Linked DNA regions of Homo sapiens. The protein of the gene in region 1 interacts with the protein of each later gene in a biochemical or structural test. Each region holds a gene or a part of one and is shown in the gene's direction. Other genes may lie near its edges. The genes, in order: KCMF1 and RGS4.

Region 1 (7,293 bases):
CTCAGCTCACTGCAAGCTCCGCCTCCTGGGTTCACGCCATTCTCCTGCCTCAGTCTCCCCAGAAGCTGGAACTACAGGCGGCCGCCATCACGCCTGGCTAATTTTTTGTATTTTTAGTAGAGACGGGGTTTCACTGTGTTAGCCAGGATGGTCTCGATCTCCTGACCTCATGAGCCGCCCGCCTCGGCCTCCCAAAGTGCTGGGATTACAGGCGTGAGCCACCGCGCCCGGCCAATACTGTATGTATTCTTTGAAATTTCCTTTCACTCATCTGAGGCAGATGTTCTTACCGTTGCTGTGATTCATTCTTTTTCCAATTCATTCTGTGCATATTGAACTGTTGAGCCTTTGAATCTGAATAGCCTTTTTTTTTTTTTTTTTGAGACGGAGTCTCGCACTTTCTCGCCCAGGCTGGAGTGCAGTGGCGCGATCTCAGCTCACTGCAAGCTCCGCCTCCTGGGTTCACGCCATTCTCCTGCCTCAGCTTCCTGAGTAGCTGGGACTACAGGCGCCCGCCACCACGCCTGGCTAATTTTTTTTTGTATTTTTAGTAGAGACGGGGTTTCACCGTGTTAGCCAGGATGGTGTCGATCTACTGACCTTGTGATCCGCCCGCCTCGGTCTCCCAAAGTGCTGGGATTACAGGCGTGAGCCACCGCGCCCAGCCCCTGAGTAGCCTTTTTAAAATTCAGTTACAAAAACTGCCGTCAACATTCTTCCACATTCTCTAGGTGCACACAGACAAAAGATTCCCTCCCCGGGAATTTATTTAAGAGTGAAATTACGGTATCATAGGAGGTATATGTGTTTAACTTGACTAAAAATATGAACAAATTTTTCAAAGTGGTTGTGCTGATTTACACTCCTACCAGCAGGGTATAAGCACTTCTGCTGCCCTTTATCTTCACTAACACTTGATATCATGAAACTTGTAGTTTCTTACCGGTTTGGTAAATGTAAAATGCTAGCTCACGGATGTTAATCATGCACTTCTTTGATGACTAATGAGATTGAGCATCTTTTCATATGTTTACTGGCCATTTATGTTTGTTGTTCTTTGAGTGCCCTTTGACAGGTTTCTCCATTTTTCTACTAAGCATTCATCATTTACTTACTGATATGTAAGAGTTCATAATGCATTCTGAATACCAAACTTTTGTCTGTCATGTATGTTGTACATATCGCCAGTTTCTGAACCTTATATTTTCAATCAATGTAGGCTGTGAAAAGACGAAGAAAAAGGCCGAGCGTGGTGGCTCACGCCTGTTGTAATTCCAGCACTTTGGGAGGCCCAGGCGGGCAGATCACCCGGAGTTCGAGACCAGCCTGGCCAACGTGGTGAAACCCCGTCTCTACTAAAAATACAAAAATTAGCTGGGCATGGTGCCAGGCGCCTATGATCCCAACTCCTTGGGAGGCTGAGGCAGGAGAATTGCTTGAACCCAGGAGGCGGAGGTTGCAGTGAGCCAAGATCTCACCATTGCACTCCAGCCCCGGCGACAGAGTGAGACTCTATCTCAAAAGAATAAAACAAAAACAAAAGATGAAGAAAAAGTCTTAACGTAGTTGGACTTATCTCTTACTTTTTGATTTGGAGAGTGAGAGAGAGAGAGAGAGAGAGAGAGAGAGAGTGTGTGTGTGTGTGTGTGTGTGCGCGTGTGTGTGTGAGAAAGAGAAAGATTTAAGAAATTGTTTTCTACTTTAGACTCATAAAAATATTCTATATTGTCTTCTAGAGATATTTTTCATTGTTCTTTTGAATCCGTCTTTAAACCATGTGGAATTGATTTTTTGTGTGTATAGGATATGGGGAGAGATCCAATTCTGTTTTCCCCACATGCAGATAATCACCTGTTCAGCACCATTTATTGTCCATTCCCTTTTTTTCTCAGTGCTCTTTAGTGACCTTGCTGTTGTAAAACAGATTTCAACATCTGTTTCTGGTCTTTCCGTTCTATTCCATGGGCCAGTTTGTCTCTACCCTGGTGCCATTCCATCTTACTGTAGTTATTATAGGTTTATTATTTGTTATGGTGTTACTTATTATTTATTAGTTTAGCTCTTGATATATAAAACAAGTCCCTCTATCTCATTTTTCTTGGGAGCATCTTGACTCTCCTTGGCCCTTTTTGTAACTTGCATCAACATTTGAGTCAGCTTACCATGCCCCACAAAAAAATTCTTTTTAAATTTTGGTTATTAATTGTATTGAATCCACAAATCTGTTGACATTTTATTATGAACCTTCCAGTCCATGAAGTTGGTATTTATATTTTTTAAAGTCCTTTAGTGTCTTTGAATACATTTTTACTAATTTGCTTCATAAAGGGCTGCCTATCTTTGGTTAGATTTATTCATAGGCACTTTTTTAAAATGCTGTTGCAAATGGCTTATTTTTTTATTGCAGTAAAATATACATAGCATAAAATTTATTTTAACCCCTTTTAGGTGTACAGTTCAGTAGCATTAAGTATATTCACATTCTTGGAACCATCACCACTGTCCATCTCCAGAATTCTTCCATTATCCCAAACTTGAAAACTCTCTACCCACTAAACCGTAACTCCCCGTTCTCCCTTTCCTCAAGCTTCTGGCAACCACTGTTCTACTTTCCTTCTCTTTGAATTTGGCACATCTCGATGGAATCACAAATGACATTTTTTTGGTTTTTTGAGATAGGAGTCCCGCTCTGTCACCCAGGCTGGAGTGCAGTGGCGCAACCTCAGCTTACTGCAACCTCTGCCTCCTGGGTTCAAGTGATTCTCTTCCCTCAGCCACCCGAGTAGCTGAGATTACAGGCACACACCACCATGCCTCACTAATTTTTTTGTAATAAATGACATATTTTTAATAATATGTTTTTCTGTCTGTTTTGCAGTGAAGAAATACAATCAGTACTTTATTTAGGAGGTCTCTATCTAACAGCTTTGCTTACTGCTTCTAATAACTTAGCTGTATTTGGGTTTTCAGCATAAACAAGCAGATCACATGTGAATAAAACTATGAAACCCACCTACAGAATTTTAAATTTTAACTTTTTTAAAAATATTTTTTAAAGACAGAGTCTCACTCTGTCGCCTAGGCTGGAGTGCAGTGGCATGATCTCGGCTCACTGCAACCTCCGTCTCCTGAGTTCAAGCCATTCTTCTGCTTCAGCCTCCCAAGTAGCTGAGATTACAGGCGCCCACCACCACGCCCGGCTAATTTTTGTATGTTTAGTAGAGATGGGGTTTCACCAGGTTGGTCAGGGTGGTCTTGAACTCCTGACCTCAGGTGATCCGCCCACCTCAGTCTCCCAAAGTGCTGAGATTACAGGCGTGAGCCACTGCGCCTGGCATATTTTAACTTTTTTTTTTTTAAACAAATACAAATGAGATCTCTCTATGTTGCCTTGGCTGGTCTTGAACTCCTGGCCTCAAGCAGCCCTCTTGTCTTAGCCTCCCAAAGTGTTGGAATTACAGGTGTGAGCTATGGCACCCAGCCCTGTTCAAGCTTCTTTCTTTCCTTTATTATTATTATTATTATTATTATTATTATTATTATTTTTATTTTTTCCAGACAGGGTCTTGTTCTGTTCCCAAGCTGGAGTGCAGTAGTTTGATCATGGTCACTGCAGCTTCGAGCTCCTGGGCTCAAGCATTCCTCCCACCTCAACCTTCCAAGTAGCTAAGGCTACAGGCACAGGCCACAATGCCCAGCTAATTTTTAAATTTTTTTGTAGACAGGATCTCTCTATGTTGCCCAGGCTGGTCTTGAACTCCTGGCCTCAAGCCATCCCCCTGCCTCGCCTTGCCAAAGTGCTTGGGATTATAGGTGTTAGCCACCACACCCAGTTATTTCTTTTAACAGGTCAAGAATTATTTGATGCCCCAATTCTGATATGAACTCATGACTGATTCTGCTGCTCCTGCTAGTTCTTTCTGATGGTGCTTTGTTTTTTTGTGTGTATTTTATGGTTTAAATTATGAACTTATTCTTTGGATGTTTATATATGCCAGATGCTTGGTATCAATTCTAATTTAAGACCACTTAAAATTCTTGACCCAAGGTCTTTGGAACCATTTGATAGAATTTGGGCTATAAACCCATGAGGACTGGTTTGTGGTTATGGCTTTTTGTGTTATTTTGTGCCCCTAGGGCAGGGGGCTTTCACTGGGGTAATTTTTGTAATCCCCTAGGGAGGATTTCTAGCCTACCCATGCATTGAGAGTATATTAGGGTCTTGGTTTTATGAGGAATCTTCTGTTAATTATCCCACCTTCACTAGGCCTTTGTCCAATAATGCTGTGGACCTTAAGCTTAGATTTTTACCTGCTTGGGCAAATACCCTCATGGTGAAAAGCCTTCTTTAGTGCTTCCAGTCACCAGTTCCTCTTCGTCTTGGTTTTTACCTTCTTGCTGGCTTATCAAGGCTTTTTTTTTTTTTTTTTTTTTTTTTTTTGAGACAAAGCCTCACTCTGTTGTGAGGCTGGAGTGCAGTGGCGCGATCTCAGCTCACTGCAACCCTACCTCCTGGGTTTAAGCAATTCTCATGCCTCAGCCTCCCAAGTAGTTGGGATTACAGGTGCCAGCCACCACGCCCAGCTAATTTTTGCATTTTTAGTAGAGACGGGGTTTCAACATGTTGACCAGGCTGGTCTTGGACTACTGACCTCAAGTGATCCACCCGCCTCGACCCCCGCAAAGTGCTCAGATTACAGGCGTGAGCCACTGCACCCAGCCTGTATCAGTCATTTTAAATTATTTTCATGTGGAGTATAAATCAGAGTAATGAATCCAGCACATGGCTAAAACTTCCCGTATCATTTTACTAAGTCATTTCTAGTCATTTTGGAAAGGACATATGAGGTTAAATGAGCACCTGAAACATTCATAAAAATGAAATCAAGAGTGGCCTTTACAACTGGTAACTAAAGATATTTCTTTTTTTTATAGGTGTCAGCTGTGATGCATGTTTAAAAGGAAATTTTCGAGGTCGCAGATATAAGTGTTTAATTTGCTACGATTACGATCTTTGTGCATCTTGTTATGAAAGTGGTGCAACAACAACAAGGCATACAACTGACCACCCAATGCAGTGCATATTAACAAGGGTAGATTTTGGTAAGTAATTAAAAATTTAATGAATTACATCATTTAGAATTTTATGTACGTTGAAGAAGTAAAGGCAAAGTGTTCTAAAACTCCCCAGCAGCATACCATAAGCCCCAAATTCATTAAACATGAAATAAATCTTACTTTTTTTTGAGACGGAGTTTCGCTCTTGTTGCCCAGGCTGGAGTGCAATGGCGCGATCTTGGCTCACTGCAACCTCCACCTCCCTGGTTCAAGCAATTCCCCTGCCTCAGCCACCCGAGTAGCTGGGATTACAGGTGCACACCACCACGCCTGGCTAATTTTTTTGTATTTTTAGTAGAGACAGGGTTTCACCACGTTGGCCAGACTGGTCTCGAACTCCTGACCTCAGTCAATCTGCCCGACTCAGCCGCCCAAAGTGCTGGGATTATAGGCGTGAGCCACTGTGCCTGGCTTTTTTTTTTTTTTTTTTTTTTTTTTTGAGGAGTCTTACCCTGTCGCCTAGGCTGGAGTGCAATGTCGTGATCTCAGCTCGCTGCAACCTCCACCCCCCAGGTTCAAGCGATTCTCCTGCCTCAGCCTCCCAAGGAGCTGGGATTACAGGCGTGCACCACCATGCCCGGCTGATTTTTTGTATCTTTAGTAGAGATAGGGTTTCACCATGTTAACCAGGCTGGTCTTGAACTCCTAACCTAATGATACACCTGCCTCGGCCTCCAAAGTGCTGGGATTACAGGCGTAAGCCACCGCGCCCGGCCTTACTTTTTACGTACTAAGTAATTCTGTCTGTTCATCTTAATCATAGTTTACTTGTTTAAAAAAACCATTCAGAAATATACACAACTGACAAGGAATGAAATAGAAGAGTGCTTCAGTAAAGAAGAAATATGCTCTGTCTTTTGTTCGTGCTATTAACACACAAATAATAGCTTTATTTTATTTTATTTTTTATTTTTTTAAGACAGAGTCTCACTCTGTCGCCCACGCTGGAATGCAGTGGCCGGATTTCGGCTCACTGCAACATCTGCCTCCTGGCTTCAAGCAATTCTCGTGCCTCAGCCTCTTGAGTAGCTGAGACTACAGGTGTGTGCCACCTTGCCCAGCTAATTTTTTTGTATTTTTAGTAGAGATGAAGTTTCACTATGTTGGCCAGGCTGGTCTTGACCTCAAGTTATCCACCTGCCTTCGCCTCCCAAAGTGCTGGGATTACAGACGTGAGCCACCATGCCCAGCAATAATAGCTTTTGTAGTGACCAGAAAACAGATTGTTGGCTGGTTATGGTGGCTAACGCCTGTAATCCCAGCCCTTTGGGAGGCTTAAGATGGTCAGATCACTTGAGCCCAGGAGTTTGAGATGAGCCTGGGCAACATGGCAAAAACCCTGTCTCTGCATCCACCCCCGAAAAATACAATAAATTAGCTGGATGTGGTGGCGCACATGCATCTGTAGCCCTAGCTACTTGGGAGGCTGAGATGGGAGGATCACTTGAGCCCAGGAGGTCAAGTGTGCAGTGAACCCTGATTGTGCCACTACATTCCGGCCTGGCCAACAAAGCAAGACGCTATCTCAAAAAAAAAAAAAGGCAGATTGTTTCTACAGTTGATTAGAAGACATTGTAAGAAAATATATAAATGTTTCATGCTATAATTTTTTTTTTTTTTTTTTTTGAGACAAGAGTTTCACTCTTGTCGCCTAGGCTGGAGTGCAATGGCGCCATCTCAGCTCACTGCAACCTCCACCTCCTGGGTTCAAGCGATTCTCCTGCCTCAGCCTCCTGAATAGCTGGGATTACAGGTGCCCGCCACCATGCCCAGAAAATTTTTTTTGTATTTTTAATAGAGACAGGGTTTCACCATGTTGGCCAGGCTGGTCTTGAACTCCTAATCTTAGGTGATCCACTTGCGGGCCTCCCAGAGTGCTGAGATTACAGACATGAGCCACCACGCCTGGCTTCGTGCTATAATTTCTTACCTAGCCCACACTTTTTGTCCTTTTTATTTCAGCCATCCTAGTAGGTGTAAAGTAGTATCTCAGGTGGTTTTGATTTATATTTCTCTGAAATATAAATTATGTTGAGCATCTTTTCTTGTGCTTATGGGCCATTTGTATATCTACTTTGAAGAAATACCTTGATCCTTTGCCCATTTTTTAATTGGATAATGTGTCTTTGTTATTGAATTGTAATAGTTTTTTATTCCTTATGTAAGTTTTTTTAT
Region 2 (5,235 bases), on another chromosome or scaffold:
GTTTTCCTCAGAGGTCATGCCAACTCCAACTCCCGTTCCCTAAACTGTCTCTGAGCCATAGACTAGTAATGGACTCTTCAAGCTCTACCATTAGGTATCTTTTAAAGAAAGCTGGTTATTACTATTTATTCATTTTTTTCTCTTCTGTGCAGTGCAAAAGATATGAAACATCGGCTAGGTTTCCTGCTGCAAAAATCTGATTCCTGTGAACACAATTCTTCCCACAACAAGAAGGACAAAGTGGTTATTTGCCAGAGGTAAGAGAAAAGGCCTTGGTGAAGATGTACTTAGTATTAACTATCTGATGATGGGGATGTTCTGTGAGAAGGAACTTGTGCTCCTAGTTAAGCCAGATTTGGATCAAGATAGCCTCCATTTTCATGGAGATCATAACTACATTTGAAATTTCTATACATTTAGTGAAAAACTGCCCTCATCAATAACATATTTTGTCATAACGATGGAAAATAAAATCTTTGCCTTCATTCAGGATCTTAGATTTCTTGCCCCAATTTTTTTACCATGGCATTCCAATTATTCTGTTTCTCTCTATTTTTTCTAGAGTGAGCCAAGAGGAAGTCAAGAAATGGGCTGAATCACTGGAAAACCTGATTAGTCATGAATGTAAGTCTGACAGCAACCTGGGATGAGGTACTCTGGATAAGACAAGTTATATTATGCTGGTCTAATAGAAACTGCAGCAAGGCCTGGCTTCTTTCTGATGTTCAGACTCAGGAGACTCTTTAGGTCTTAAATTCAGTCTGTTTAAAATTTTAATATGCCCTAGAGCTTTGTGATATACAATGAAAAGTTTATGCAGGAACCATGTGGAAAACCATCTCTCTCATCACAAGGAAAAACGGAAGAGAGAAAAAAAATGATAAATATCAATACCTTCTTGCAAAATCAATCTCAGTTTCTCTTTCCCAAATTGACCTTGGTAATTGATAGCTGCATAGGCATTTCAGAAGCAAAATACTTCCTTGAAAGAGGCTTCCAACTTGAGTAAGAATCATTAGGTAGAACTGGGAACCACTGGATATCAAACACAGATTAGGGTTACCTGACTCCAGGTGACTTGAAAAAAGCAGGGGAAAAAGGGATTGCTTGAATCCATGCTTTATCCCCCAAGTACCTCAGCTTTATGTGAAATAGCATATCCAAGAGGCCAACCAGTGTGATGACAACTGTGGTCCTTTCTCCTGTATCATAGGTGGGCTGGCAGCTTTCAAAGCTTTCTTGAAGTCTGAATATAGTGAGGAGAATATTGACTTCTGGATCAGCTGTGAAGAGTACAAGAAAATCAAATCACCATCTAAACTAAGTCCCAAGGCCAAAAAGATCTATAATGAATTCATCTCAGTCCAGGCAACCAAAGAGGTAGGTTTTTTATGGATACATAAAAATTGTACGTATTTATGGAGTATGTGTGATATTTTGATACATGCATACAATGTGATAACAATCAAATCAGGGCAATTGCTATATACATATCTCAAACATTTATTATTTCTACGTGTTGAGAACATTCCAAATCTCCTCTTCTAGCTATCTTAAAATATACAATAAACTATTGATAACTATATCACCCTAATGTGCTATCAAACACTAGAACCTATTCCCTCTACCCAACTTTCTATCTATTCCTTCTACCCATTAGCCAACCTGACCAAAAAGGTAAGCTTTTATGGCAGAGAACTCTCTGGATCTTAGTGAAGGTTCCTAGAATAGTGGAGCTGACTATCATAATCTTGACAACCCCAAATAAATCAGTTTTTTAAAAAATCTCTTTTATCCATGTGGCTTACCATAACCTCCCTGCATGAATTTTTCTGATGAATCTCCCCAATTTGTTAGACAGAACAGAAGATCTTGCCCTGCTCTCTCTAAAGCAGAAAGGTTCATTCTGAACCTTTCATACTCTCTCACATGTGCCAAGGAGGACCCCAATGTCACTTTTGTTTTTTGCTTCTGAAATACAGAGGGTGCACTGCCACTTACAAGTCACTACAAAGCATACAGGCTTGCATCCTCAACAGGGATATAGGTCTAATGAAGCCTTGGCCTTTGCCCCTCAGGTGAACCTGGATTCTTGCACCAGGGAAGAGACAAGCCGGAACATGCTAGAGCCTACAATAACCTGCTTTGATGAGGCCCAGAAGAAGATTTTCAACCTGATGGAGAAGGATTCCTACCGCCGCTTCCTCAAGTCTCGATTCTATCTTGATTTGGTCAACCCGTCCAGCTGTGGGGCAGAAAAGCAGAAAGGAGCCAAGAGTTCAGCAGACTGTGCTTCCCTGGTCCCTCAGTGTGCCTAATTCTCACCTGAAGGCAGAGGGATGAAATGCCAAGACTCTATGCTCTGGAAAACCTGAGGCCAAATATTGATCTGTATTAAGCTCCAGTGCTTTATCCACATTGTAGCCTAATATTCATGCTGCCTGCCATGTGTGAGTCACTTCTACGCATAAACTAGATATAGCTTTTGGTGTTTGAGTGTTCATCAGGGTGGGACCCCATTCCAGTCCAATTTTCCTAAGTTTCTTTGAGGGTTCCATGGGAGCAAATATCTAAATAATGGCCTGGTAGGTCTGGATTTTCAAAGATTGTTGGCAGTTTCCTCCTCCCAACAGTTTTACCTCGGGATGGTTGGTTAGTGCATGTCACATGACATCCACATGCACATGTATTCTGTTGGCCAGCACGTTCTCCAGACTCTAGATGTTTAGATGAGGTTGAGCTATGATATGTGCTTGTGTGTATGTCTATGTGTATATATTATATATACATTAGACACACATATACATTATTTCTGTATATAGATGTCTGTGTATACATATGTATGTGTGAGTGTATGTATACACACACACACACACACACACACACACTTTTGCAAGAGTGATGGGAAAGACCCTAGGTGCTCATAACTAGAGTATGTGTATGTACTTACATGGGTGTTTTGATCTCTGTTCTTTCATACTACATTTGAACAGGGCAAAATGAACTAACTGCCATGTAGGCTAAGAAAGAAATGCTAACCTGTGGAAAGTTGGTTTTGTAAAATTCCATGGATCTTGCTGGAGAAGCATCCAAGGAACTTCATGCTTGATTTGACCACTGACAGCCTCCACCTTGAGCACTATTCTAAGGAGCAAATACCTTAGCTCCCTTGAGCTGGTTTTCTCTGATGGCACTTTTGAGCTCCTAAGCTGCCAGCCTTCCCTTCTTTTCCTGGGTGCTCAGGGCATGCTTATTAGCAGCTGGGTTGGTATGGAGTTGGCAGACAGGATGTTCAACTTAATGAAGAAATACAGCTAAGGCCTTGCCAGCAACACCTGCCGTAAGTTACTGGCTGAGTGAGGGCATAGAAGTTAAAGGTTACTGTTTTTATCCTCTATCCTTTTTTCCTTTCCTGATCAAGGTGCTCTTCTCATTTTTTCCTGAGAACCTTAGCCATCAGATGAGGCTCCTTAGTTTATTGTGGTTGGTTGTTTTTTCTTTATAATGGCTCTGGGCTATATGCCTATATTTATAAACCAGCAGCAGGGGAAAGATTATATTTTATAAGAGGGAACAAATTTTCACAATTTGAAAAGCCCACATAAGTTTTCTCTTTTAAGGTAGAATCTTGTTAATTTCATTCCAAACATCGGGGCTAACAGAGACTGGAGGCATTTCTTTTTAGGCTCTGAGACTAAATGAGAGGAAAAGAAAAGAAAAAAAAAATGATTGTCTAACCAATTGTGAGAATTACTGTTTGAAACTTTTCAAGGCACATTGAAATACTTGAAAACTTCTCATTTATGTTATTTATGATGTTATTTTGTACGTGTTATTATTATTATATTGTTTTATAAATGGAGGTACAGGATATCACCTGAATTATTAATGAATGCCCAGGAAGTAATTTTCTTCTCATTCTTCTAAAACTACTGCCTTTCAAAGTGCACACACACGCGTCCACATACACTGCATTCGTTGCTCCAGTATAAATTACATGCATGAGCACCTTTCTGGCTTTTAAGCCAATATAATGGGCTGCAAAATGAAGACACCAGAGTGTATGCATACAAATCTCACTGTATTAAAGATGCAGGTTTTCTAATTGTACCCTTCTTGTCTCTCTGGCAATCTTGCCCTTAATATCCCTGGAGTTCCTCATCAGTGTCATTTTCTGTTATACACAGTTCCACAATTTTGTCTCTAGTTGACTTCAAATGTGTAACTTTATTGGTCTTGCCCTATTATAATTGTCATGACTTTCAGATTGTATCTGAACTCACAGACTGCTGTCTTACTAATAGGTCTGGAAGGTCACGCTGAATGAGAAGTAAATTATTTTATGTAATACATTTTTGAGTGTGTTTTTCAGTTGTATTTCCCTGTTATTTCATCACTATTTCCAATGGTGAGCTTGCCTGCTCATGCTCCCTGGACAGAATACTCCTTCCTTTTGCATGCCTGTTTCTATCATGTGCTTGATAGGCCTCAAAGCTAATGCTTCCAGTGAAACACACGCATCTTAATAATAAGGGTAAATAAACGCTCCATATGAAACTATTTGCTTGGAAACACATTAATGATCCAGAGACATGCTATGAGAAACATCAGGGTGTAGGGTGACTTTAGAAAAATACTCATACTGAGTCTTTAATCCCTCCTGTGCCAGTGAACTCTGGGAAAGAAAGTACAAACTGAATATTGTTTATTCTTTAGTTCATGCCACTGCTCTGCTTGGCTCTACTCATAGAACCAAGGCAATCTTAGCTTCAGAGACTGCAAAACAGATTAAGTGATTTGCTTGCAGATTCTCAATCAATTTTCAAGGGATAGAGTTCACCTTCCAGAGCCATTCTTTTATTTCCAGTTACCCGCCTGTTTGAGAGATGATAGAGCAGTGGGAAATTGAGAGAGTTGAAAGGAGCTATAGATTCTTACCCAAACTTCAAAAATCCTTCCCTCCCTTTTGTTAATTCTCTTTCCTGGAAAAGAGGTCATAAAATGTTCACATCCTCAGTAATAGGCCCTGTGCTGTGTCTATTATGTCATGAGACTCCCATTTCCTGACCCTTCTTTCCCATTGTAAGAGTAGTAGTTACAAGGTGTTAAGGATAGATGATCTTCAACACTTTTGAGAAATAGATCCATTTACGGATCTGGTAAAAACTATGGACCGAACCATCTTTTAAGAAAAAAATTCAGAGAGGAATCTAAATTTTGTGTGCTTTGAGGGGA

What was found.
Region 2: the proteins of KCMF1 (region 1) and RGS4 interact in a test that uses a peptide from one of them, tested with the Homo sapiens proteins (one study listed by BioGRID).

The regions. Positions count from the first base shown.
Region 1 is NC_000002.12:85,022,954-85,030,246, forward strand, and holds part of KCMF1 (E3 ubiquitin-protein ligase KCMF1), read left to right. Parts: intron 1-4,935; coding exon 4,936-5,103; intron 5,104-7,293. UniProt on the Homo sapiens protein: E3 ubiquitin-protein ligase which accepts ubiquitin from an E2 ubiquitin-conjugating enzyme and then transfers it to targeted substrates, promoting their degradation by the proteasome.
Region 2 is NC_000001.11:163,072,243-163,077,477, forward strand, and holds the end of RGS4 (regulator of G-protein signaling 4), read left to right. Parts: intron 1-152; coding exon 153-257; intron 258-562; coding exon 563-624; intron 625-755; exon of another isoform or gene 756-1,035; intron 1,036-1,135; exon of another isoform or gene 1,136-1,213; coding exon 1,214-1,380; intron 1,381-2,078; coding exon 2,079-2,318; 3' UTR 2,319-4,560; downstream 4,561-5,235. UniProt on the Homo sapiens protein: Inhibits signal transduction by increasing the GTPase activity of G protein alpha subunits thereby driving them into their inactive GDP-bound form. Activity on G(z)-alpha is inhibited by phosphorylation of the G-protein.